2 separate regions of the Homo sapiens genome follow, and region 1 is linked to region 2. The links come from fine-mapping of genetic effects on gene expression. A gene starts in region 2. The other region holds a variant in brackets. All regions are shown on one strand. Distances are from middle to middle.

Region 1 (5,363 bases), 170 kb after region 2:
ATAAACTAAACTAGTTTGCCTTCAAGGAGCTCCTGCCCTTCTTAGGGAGGGCCCTTGAGCCAGTCTTTTCACTCTGTAGGCTCAAGAAGAAACTGAACCCAGTCCCCAACTTCCGTGGGCAACAGGAAAACGCCACAGAAAGACCAGGTCGTAGAGCTACCATTCCAGGCATGAGTTTCCCTGGGACAAACTTGCCATGGAAAAGGCCCAAGAGAGGAAACGTGTGGAGCCCAGAGTAAAGGAAAGAGAGAAGGATGATGGTTAATCCTGTTTAATGGTTAATTCTGGGTATGCTGGTTAATCCTGGGGGCCTCAGAAGATGACCCATCCTAGAAAGTTGCCTCCCCACAAGGTCTGTCGGTACTGATCTCATATGCGGGTAAAGAAGGACCCAGCGGAGGAAGAATGGGCTTAGCTGAGCACATTCACACGTATGAGAGGAAACTTTGCCACAGTGTAGGAAGAACCAAGTGGGTGTGGGAAGCCAAGTTGGTCATTGTCGCAGCAATCCGGATGCATAAGAAGTAAAGAGGAGAGAAAAAATTAGTCATCTAAAATTGATTGAGGTCAAAATTATGGCATCCCAATTGGAGGCAAACCATGATAGACTTAAAAAGATTGGAAAGTGTTTGTTGTGTGGTGTAAAGCAGGGGTTAGTTTGCAAAGTATAGCCTGTGGGCCAGATATGGCCCACTGGCCTGTTTCTACAAATGCAGTTTATTGGAACATCCATCTACTCATTTATGTATTACGTATGGCTGCTTTTGTGTTGCAATGGCAGAGTTGAGGAGTTGCAACAGAGACCATCTGGCATACAAAGCCTGAAATATTTACTATCTGGCCCTTTACAGAAAAGAGGCAAGGACACATTGTTCCGAGTCCTGGATCCACAACTTTGGATGCATACTAGCTTTTGTAACCCACCTTTCAACGTCTGAATTTCTCATCTGTAAAATGGGGGACTATGTTACCTGTGCCCACTAACCACTTCACTCACTGAGGAGTGAAGACACTGAATGAAATGAGTGTGAAAATGTACATTAAGATCTAAAGAGTTATGCAAATGCAAAGTGTTATTAGGTCTGTTTTGTAATATTTGGCAAAAGAGAGAAGACGGAGAAAGTTGATTTTTTTCTCCAATGAGGCTAAAGAGAAAATAAACAATAAAGGTTGCCAAAGGGCATGTGCACCCTTTTATTTGTGTCAGTTAATGTGTAGTTTCCAGTCAATGGAAGCTCGGTTATTAAAATTAAAGAGGAAGAAATAAAATTCACAGCCACCTTGAAAGGACTGAACAGATTCATTAACAGTGAGGTACAGTCAGAGTGGGTAGAGGTACAGGTCTGAGGGTGTGCTGACCCACCTGGGAGCAACAGAGTGGGACTGAGGGAAGGGAAGAATGAGAAGACAAATCAGGAACTACTGCCTGGGATGTGTTTATATGGGCAATTAAACATTGTTTATCTGGAATTCAACTTAGCTGGGCATCCTGTATTTTTATTTGCTAAATGTTGCAACCTTCCCCCACCCTGAGTGGTTTTGGTAGGGCAACCAATCACAGGACTCTGCTCCCTGATCACGGAGCTTGTTGATGTTCAGTCCTGCAACTCTGAATCTTAAGCAGAGAGAAATAAGGAGAGAAGGCAGTTGGAGCTGATCATCTGATGGCAATGTTCCAGAAAGATCTTCAGAGCTGCCCAGTTCTATCTTTCCCAGGACTGTAGTTCAGGCTTGCTTTTAATCTCCAAACTATGCCATTCGTTTCCAATCTATCCCTTTCTGTTCCTTAAACTAGTCAGAGTTGGTTTCTGTTGCTTGCTGTCAAAGAACCCTAACCTAATATCTCAAGACACCCAAAACAGTATCCAATAAACCATGGGGATGGGTAAAGGGGTGGACAGAGAGGGGAGGAGATTAACTAGGGAAGGCTGTTTTTGAGTGTAGATCTGGACATAGGCAGAAGAGGGGTTGGGGGAGTGGTGAGAGTATTCTCAAAATCTGGTGAGTTATTTATGTCTGCTATAACAAGAAGAAATAGGGAACTACTAAAGGCTCTTGAGTAGGGGAAGGACTTGATAAAAATGACATTCAATTTAAAAAAATATTTCCAAAGCTGGCCTTTAAGTGTCTTGGAGGGGAAGTTGGTGGCAGGGAAGCTGGCTGGGGGGCTGGCTCCATGGTCCAAATGATAGTCCAGGGGTCTAGTGTGTAAGAGTGAGGCACTGAGAATGAAGAGGAAGAGAAAAATGGTGAGAATCAGCTCAGAGGAGACTGTGGGATTTTAATGACTTTCTGGTCATGGGGAATATCCAAGAGCAGGGAGGGAAGAGCTCCAATTGGGTCATGAGCCACAGTAACTCAGCTGTGGGGGCTCCATGACCATGGGCTTCCCAGGACCTGTGGCTGCAGGGTGGGCCCATGGTGGGGGTGGTCTGAAAGGAGCAGCTCTTGGAGGCCCTTGGGCCCATGATCCTTGTTGGCTGTGTCTCCACTCTCGGGGAGGGCTGTGGTGAGTACAGGCTGCAGCAGAAAGTGACAGGGATGATTAAAGGGATGGAAAATCAGGCCCATGAAGAGAGGTTAAAGGACTGCAGCTATTTAGCCTGGGGAAGAGAGGTAGTCATGTAACAGCTCCCTTCAAGTCCATGCAGGGTGACTGGTAGACGTGTGCTAGGCAGCTGCCCGGTGCAGCTGCCCGGCACAGCTGCATATAGGGGGAGAGAGCACCCCTGGAGCGAGCACCTCTGCAGCGAGGGAAAGGCACGCTCCCGAGGGAGGCAGAGGCATAATTACAAAGGCTCTTTTGTGGTTTCTGAAGGCCCCTCTCCCCTCCCCTTTGTTTTTTGCATCTGTCATTATGCTGTGCAAACCACAGCCAGGCCTCTTGACAGCACCAATATCTGCCTTCC[T/C]GAACACTCGGAAGGTAACGTGGCTATAAAATTGACAAGTTAGATAAATACTAGTACAAAGGGTAGACTGTGTGTAGCTTTGTGCAGCCTTCTGACTGGTCTCCCACCCCGACCTGGATAAATCCTCTGTCTGCATCCCTCTGGTCACCCCCAGCCTCGTCCATTCCATCTGGGCTCCTTCTGACGGACTCCCCAGGAGCTCACATTTGCTCGGCCTCTTTGTCTAATTTGTCACTTTGACAACTTGAAAGGTCTTTTATTTCTTCCCAGGTCAAATATGTTTCATTTCACTTAAAAAAATTTTTTTTAAAGCTTCCTTTTTTTTTTTTGGCCAGGCCACACTCTTGCTGTCTTGGCTGGGCTGCCACAGTTTTCCCGGAGGAGGCCCCAAAGCCCTTGGCCCACACTCCTCAGATCGCTGCTAGGGTAACTGAGGGCCTCCTCCCGTGGTGACTGTGTTGCCCGGATCCTCAGCAGAGGCCGTGTGGGCAACATGGTCATGGAAGGAAGGTAGCTTATGAACTCCGCATTCAGACACTTCAGAATTGGAGCTGGGCGGGGTGGGTTGGGGGATGGGAGGAGGAGGGATGGGGAAGGAACATTAGTCAGGATCCACCACCAAAGTGTTGGAATCTGGCTGTCCAAAAGCCCAGAGCTAAAATTTATTTGGTTTTGGTCCTGTTGTTAATGAACAGAGGGTGTCAGCGAACCTCACTCAGTGTTAGCCCAGTCTCCTGAGTAGGTGAGGAGAACCTGGAAGCCATAACCCCACCAAGAAGTTCTGTCAGGGAGCAGGGAATTTAGACCTCATCAGATGCCTGTGGAGTGACAGAGATCCCATTCACCACCGACAGCCTCCAGCTCATACCCTAGCAGCGATCGAGGAGGTGTGGGTAAGGGGTCTTTGGGGCCGCCTCCGGGAGAGACTGTGACTCGCTGGACCCATTATGTGCTGTGGCCAAAGCCCTTGACATGGATGGGGAAGGGGTACGGGAGAGGAGCAGGCACAGAGTCTGCTCATCCAGGGATTCCCAGACGAGCTGAGCCTCTCCCTAAACAGGAGTAAATGCCCCAAATCCCCTTCTTGCCAGGGATATGGGGATGCCCTAGGGGCAGGCCTAGCTTGTACTTCCCCCTGTGAGTCCACAGCGTGCAGCACGGGGCTGAGCACCCAGTGAGCAGATGGCTCTGAGGCTGGCAGTTCAAGCAGTGGGGCCTCAGAAACAGGCAGAACTGCCCGCCGTTCTCCAGCTGCGACTGCCCTCCTCTGCATCTGCTAAGTGGGCATGACTGGCACCCACCTCTAGAGCTGCTGTGAACATCGAGTAGCACCGTGCATGACCTGGGTTTGGCATGCTTGGCATGGAGTGAGACCCCATAATGTTAGCTACTGTTGTATTAATAATAATTTATTTTCAATATGACTTATTTAATGGAATGGATGAAGCAAAGGACGAGATTCAGCGGGAAGGGCTGGGCTTCGAGACCTGATCCTTTCTCATTTTAATGCTGCTCCCTCACTGTGGTCAGCCTGAGTGGGATCGGCTGCCCGGCCTTCATTTTACCTTTGTTGCCATCTCTCTTTGCGGTGGTTCTTTCTCTTCCTCCTCCTCCGCCTCATAAGCAAAGGGTAAGGCACAGTTCTGAATCTTTGGTTCTGTAAAGAGGCGTGCCCATCTCTGTGCTTGATTCCACTGGAAAAATAAGAACAATTCCTATTATTTTCGGTTCCGAGACCTTGAGTGTGTCAGGCTTCAGGTTCACTTCCTACATCTCTCCACGTTGCCCGGATCTGCAAGTAATTTAACCTTGTTTTTATAGAGCGCAAAGACGTTCCGCTTGTTTACACTGGAGACAAATTTTCCTCAATTGACGCAATCCTATTGATTAAATAATGACCTTCTTCCTCATTTAAAGGTAATTTCGGTTGGTATCATGACGTGGAGGAAGAAAATGAATGCCTTTTCTGTCTTGCTGTCTGAAGGGCAGGCAGTGAGGGCCGACTCCCAGAGCCCTGGGCAGGGCCCTCTCATTTTTCTCACCTGTTCTGGAACTTCATCAGGCGTCGGAGTGGGGCTAGTGCTGGGACCCCTTGAGGAGGTGGGCTAAATAGGACCAGTCTTGATTAGGGAAATTAAAAAGCCAGCATTTGCTATGTAATAAGATGTCAAGGCTGGGGCAGAGTAGATGCTACTTTGTTTTAAAACTTGATTTGCTTTCAAGACTTGTACGTAAATTACTTTTCAAGCTCATATCACACGATATAGTCCGGGCATGTCATTTGAGCCAAGGATTTAAAATCAAAGGGAAAGGCAATGTGCAAGTTCAGGAAGAACTTCAGGGAACAGCTCACACAGGAGAGACACAAAGATGGGAGCCTGGGGTGGTGAGAGAGTTGTTGGGTACTCTTGGGTAAGTCCTTTAACTTCTTCTGGGTCTAGATTCCTCATTGGT
Region 2 (5,363 bases):
CAATAAAGAGTCACACAGCTAACCCCAGACAACCCTGGTCTTGGTTTGGTGAGGGAAGGGTGAAAACTATTCTGTTGTAATTTTTTCTTTGGTGCCTTCAGAATTGGGCTGGGGGCCTGACATTTCAGAGGAGGACCGTCACGTGATATATATGTGGGGCGTTAGCTGAATGCTTGTCAGGAAGTTTGAGCTGGCGGGAAGAGTGAGGGACAAGTTTCTTAAAAGATAGGAAAGCACATCAAACATCAAACCCGTCTGAAGGGAGAGGGGTCTTGAGTCAAGTAACTAAGACTTTATGTCCTGCTAAGTCACTCAAGACCTCTCCACTCCCTCAGGATCTGGCTGACACCCTAGAGTTTCCAAAAAGTTCCCAAAAGTCCCTGGGAAGGAAAGAGTACAAGATCCTCCCAGTTAGAATGGCCACGTAACCAGGGGCTCACTCCCTGAAGCTGCAGACACGGTGTGAGCTGTGCAGCCAGGCTTCACTACACGCAAGTGTTGGTTCTGCCCGAGCTCCTGAGACCAGTTTGGGGCCCAGGGCCCGGTCACAAGTGTCTGACCAGGGTTGGGGAATACGATGGGGGAGGGGGAGACTGGGAGCCAACAGGAGTATAAACAACTTTTGGGCCAGTCTCTCCTGCTCTACGACGCCCACCCATCTCCCTCCAGGGCTGGGGTGCCATCTCACTCCTAAGGAAAGGAGAGAGGGACTCCTGGGTTTCCAGTCATTTCTGCTGGGTGCAGAAAGGTTAGTTTGAGTGGGCTGGTAGGTGGAAGGTGTGTGCAAGATTTCATCCGTTGGGGAGGCTGCACACACCCATGTTCACCGGGCCAACAGCGGTCAGGGATTCCCCTCTGTTTGCTCAGACATGTGCAAAGGGAATAGTCTGTCTAATCTTAGGATGGGGGGAGACCTGAGAGAGAGGACGTGGAGTGTTAGGGCGGTGCTGGGACTGTGAGAGGCCCACTCAAAGTCTAGCTTGGAGGGGACAAGGTGGGGGTTTCAGCTCTCGCCTGTGTCTCCAGTGAACAGGCGAGGCAGAGTCCCGTTGAGTAGGAACCTGAGCATTTGGCCTTCTCAACCTTCCAGCCTCTTGGCTATCTATATACACTCAGACAGTGTGACATTTAGATCCTCAGGCCGCCAGTCTGTCCACTGAGCTGAGACCTTCAGGCTTCTCCAGGGGCTCAAGGACCCACTTTAAGGCCTGGGGAACCCTTAGTTCACTTCTGGGAAGGACTGTGTTCCCTTTTTCTAGCCTGCTCCCCAGCCCCCTTCCAGTGTCTTCTGGGTGGCGCTGGAGGTGGGTGGGTGGGGAGACTCTATAGGAATCAAGCCTGACACATGGTCTCTTTCCAGCTCTTCCCAGCCCCACTGCTGTCCCGTCTCATTTTCAAAACCAGACAAATCACTGGAAGTTGGGAGAAGTTCCATCAAGAAGGGGGACTTTATCACACAGTTGGAATTCTGACTCAAGTGTCTTGGCTTAGGGTCATTTTGGCTTGGGGTAATATCCCTGGTGTTCAACCTCCTAACTCCAGCCCGGAGTAGAGTCCTAAATCCTAATGGACTGCCCCACCCCCTGAGTTTTGGGAGCCTCTGTCCTGGCCTGTCTTTAAGAGATGTGTGGAAGCCGAGAAACCCAGGAGTTCTCCGGTAAAGGGACGCCCACCCAGGAGTGAGAAGCAGGGTGGTGCAGTGGGAAGGGCCATGGTCCGGTTTCTGCGTCTAGCTTAGCCTGGGTGCAGTCACTGGCACTCCAGATCAAGGGGTTCTCTTCCAGCCAGGTTGACAAGGTCTTGGGCACTCCCAGCCAACACCGTTACCCCCGCGTCCCCACCCTCGTACCTGCAGCACGTTGGGGTGCCGCAGCCGCTCCAGCAGCACCATCTCCTTAAGCAGCTTGTGGGCCGCCAGCCGATAGCAGCCCCTCCGTACCCCGAACTCGCGCACGCAGCTGCCCAGATCGTGGCCGCTAAAGTCCACCGCCTTGAGCGCCACCGCGGCACCGCCGGGCAGGCGGACCCGGTACACGGCCTTGGTGTAGCCTGAGCCCATGTACTGCGCGCCGGACACGTTGCGAAGCGCGGCGCAGCCCAGGCGCGGGCCCGGGCCGGGGGAGCCTGGGCCGGGAGCCGGGGGCCAGCCTGGGGCGCCGTCGGACAGGGGCCGGGCCCAAGGGGGCCGGGGGCGCGGCAGGCCGGGCCCGCCCGGAGCCAGGTCCATCAGGCGCCGCCGCTCCGGCCGGCCCGCCCCGGGCCCGGGGCCCCCGCGGGAATAGCGCTGCACCTCCTCGTAGCGCGCCCGGATCTGCCGGGCCAGCTCCCCGCGGCCCCCGCGACGGCCCGGACCCGGGGCCGGCGAAGGCTCAGGGGACTGGCCTGGCCTCGGAGGCTCCGAGCCCGGAGCGAAGAGCACGTTGAGGACGGAGCCCAGCAGGAAGGAGGCGCAGAAACCCGCGGCCACTGCCGCCCGCCGGCGCCGCATCGCTCCCCTCCCCCCGGCCGGCCGGCCCCGCGCGGCTCCCCGGCCCCGGCCCCGGGCGGCTCAGGCTCCGAGGCGGCTCCGCTCTGCGCCCCGCCGGCCCCCTGCCCAGCCCGCGCGCATGGCCCCGGCGGCCCCGACCCCGGCCCCTCGCGGGCGACACATCGGCCTGACACTTGCCTCCCTGCCGCCCTGCCCCCGCCGCTTATAAGGCCCAGAGCCGCCCCCCGCCCCCGCCCCCGCCCCCTCCCCCGCCCCCTCCCCCGCCCCTCCGCCTCCACCTCCCAGCTCCCGGCCCGAGCCCGTCCTCGGCGCCGCCCCCTCCGGCCGCCCGGCCCGGCCTTCCCCGCTGACTGACAGCGGGACCTCCTCCCGCGGCCGTCCGGGCCTGGGAAGCGGCGCGGAGGCGGCTCCGGTCCTGCCCAGCCCGCGGTCCCGCCCAGCCCGCGGTCCCCCGAGCTCCGTCTGGGAGCGGGGGAGGGGGCGGCGGCGGCCAGGAGGCGCGCGGGGGCTCCGCGCCCAACGCGAGGGCGGATAACGGGGCCGGGGCGGCCGGATAACGGGATTGGGAGGTGGATAACGGAGCCGGCCGGGCGGAGTGGGGGAAAGATAAAGGGGCGAGGCCGGCGGGTAGCGGGCTCCGGAGGGGACGAGCAGCTAAGTCCGGGGTGCGGAGATCCGAGTGATCTCAGCGCTCCCTCCTGGGACTGGGGGCCTCGGGGCGGTTTGGGCGCAGGGAAGGCGCGTGGACCCCGTCTCTCGCGGGTGGGGCCGGGGGTGGCGGCTCCTCGCTCAGCCCCGGATTCCGGATTGGGGCGATGGTGAGGGGGAAGCGGGCACAGCCGGGCCAGCACCTGCGAGCGCGCGTGGGACAGGAGCTCTAGGCATAGAGGAATGCTCGTGAGCTCGCCGAGGATGCCCTGTTCAACTCCTTTTACCAAAGTGTTTCTGATTTTCCTTGCCTCTAAAGCCCCAAATGCAGCTGGGGGTCGCTCCCTACCCCTCAAGATGCCTGGGGTCTGACGGGGTCAGCCGCGTATAAGAAACCATGTGCATGCTAGTAGCTTGGGCAAAGAGTGCGTTTGTGCCCACGGACGGCTGTCTGTGGAGTGTGTGCCTCGGCGTGTCTGAAGGGGCCATTGTGTCCGATGAAGGGAATGTGTACCTTGTGTGTAAGTTGGTGCTGACGCCACCAGAACTTCGGTCCCTCCTCCTCCCTCCCTGATTGCATCATTAGTGCTAATTGAGGGGCTTTCACACGCCAGTGCACTAGCTGTTTGGAGTGAGCTCCCCCCTCCTGGGAGAGATAAGCCGCTGCCCCTCCCCCTCGCAGCTCTCCTCTTCCCCGCCACTCTGAAACTGCCCACCTAGATCCTCTCACCTTCCTGGGCAGCTTCCTGCCTCCCTCTGGGCCAGGTTAATCTCTGTCCTCCTCACAGTGTCAGGGATTGGCTGGGGAGGGGTCAGGGAGGAGAAGGGTCCACAGCCTTTTTTCTGGGGGTGGGGGTGGGTGGGGGGGTATCCAGGGAGGGGAGATTTTCCCTGAAGAGGTCTGGCGTTCCTACAGAATGCAGTGTCTGTGATGAGAAAGGGACAGGAATTTCTGCCCTGTTCCTTTGGACATGGAAGGACCGAGGAGAGAGCTGAGTCCCTGATCTCCAGCCTATGATCCCACTGAGGTGGGCCTTCCAGCCCGGACTCCTTGTTCTCTATGGCTTGGGGAGTTGGGGCCCAGTCCGACTTGGCAAGCATGGAAAGGCAGGGTGAAGGAAGCCATGATTCCTCCGAGAACACTGGGTCTGGTGGAGTCAGGTCTGTACCGATAGAGCTGTTCTGCCCCACTCTGGGCCGTGGCTGCAGTCTGCAGGGTGTAGGGGGAAGGCTCTGAGCAGATGCCCTCTCCGCAGCCTTGCACCAGATGTCTTTGGTCTAATTAACTGTGCTGGGAAAACCAACCTGGGTTTGTAAACAGAGCTACTGGCTAAAGTCAACAGGGAACAGCAGCAAACAGCAAACCATTCCCCTCACACTCAGCCTTGGTCCAATTCAGACCCCTGGGGAAAACGGGGAGCTGGGTGGATTAGGAGGCCCCCCCCGGCCCACAGCTGAATCAGGAAAAGCCTGTCTGCCTGTGTCACCCCAATATGGCTGCTAGTTCCTTATCAGTTCCATGTCTTCTTTTCTGGGGAGGAATGAGGATTTTGGGAGGAACAGTTGCCATCCCAAGATAGGCTCTGTCCTCCTTCCAGCAATTTCCCCATAGACATCTACCCAGCCAAACGTCTCAATCCGTGAGGGAGCTGTTGTGGGGGAATATTCCCTGAAGAACTTTCTTTGGGGCTTGCTCTGCCCTTGTGTTTTGGAGAAACTTCTGAGGGTAAAACTTGGCGTTGTGAGTCTACAGCTCAGAGTAGGTGAATATAACATGAACATTGTTAAGTTTGTTACACATCATGTAGGTATTATAATAACATGTTCTGAAATTAGATAATTATTCCTGTGATATCTTTGCCAAGCTTCAGTGTTTCTGTTATGGTTTGAAAGTTCAAGGCACACAGGGGCCTGAGAAACAGGCACAAATGTGCGTGCAACACACACAGGTCCACGGAGCAGTTCAGAGCAGTAGCTCACACACAGGAACAAAGGCATCTCAGTGGCCTCCCTCGCATACTCACTGTCTCCCTCACCAGCTCTCAGACACAGACATATACAATCTGAGATGGAAATGGGTTTTTGGCTTCTGAAAGAAAGGGATTGAACTTTTTGAGCAGATTAGAGTTTCTGAATTGGCAGTTCTTGAGTTCTTAACTATATTTTGCTTGTTTGCTTTTTTTTTTTTTTTTCCTTTCTGCCACCCAGGGAGAGGAATCATTTCAAA

Evidence for each region. PIP is the estimated chance that this variant, and not a neighbour inherited with it, causes the effect.
Region 1: its variant is fine-mapped to the expression of PKDCC in whole blood (TOPMed, PIP above 0.99).

The regions. Positions count from the first base shown.
Region 1 is chr2:41,876,890-41,882,252 of GRCh38, reverse strand. LINC01913 (long intergenic non-protein coding RNA 1913) reads right to left here and starts at 4,698. Exons shown (of 3, transcript NR_033996.1): 1 at 4,475-4,698. The variant T/C (reference allele first, on the strand shown) is at 2,910.
Region 2 is chr2:42,045,325-42,050,687 of GRCh38, reverse strand. PKDCC (protein kinase domain containing, cytoplasmic) reads right to left here and starts at 2,667. Exons shown (of 7, transcript NM_138370.3): 1 at 1,850-2,667. The coding sequence starts at 2,488. RefSeq lists enhancers at 564-1,065, 1,779-2,038, 3,539-3,658, 3,282-3,786, 3,787-4,290 and silencers at 2,079-2,148, 2,279-2,378, 2,389-2,568, 2,719-2,968, 3,079-3,368.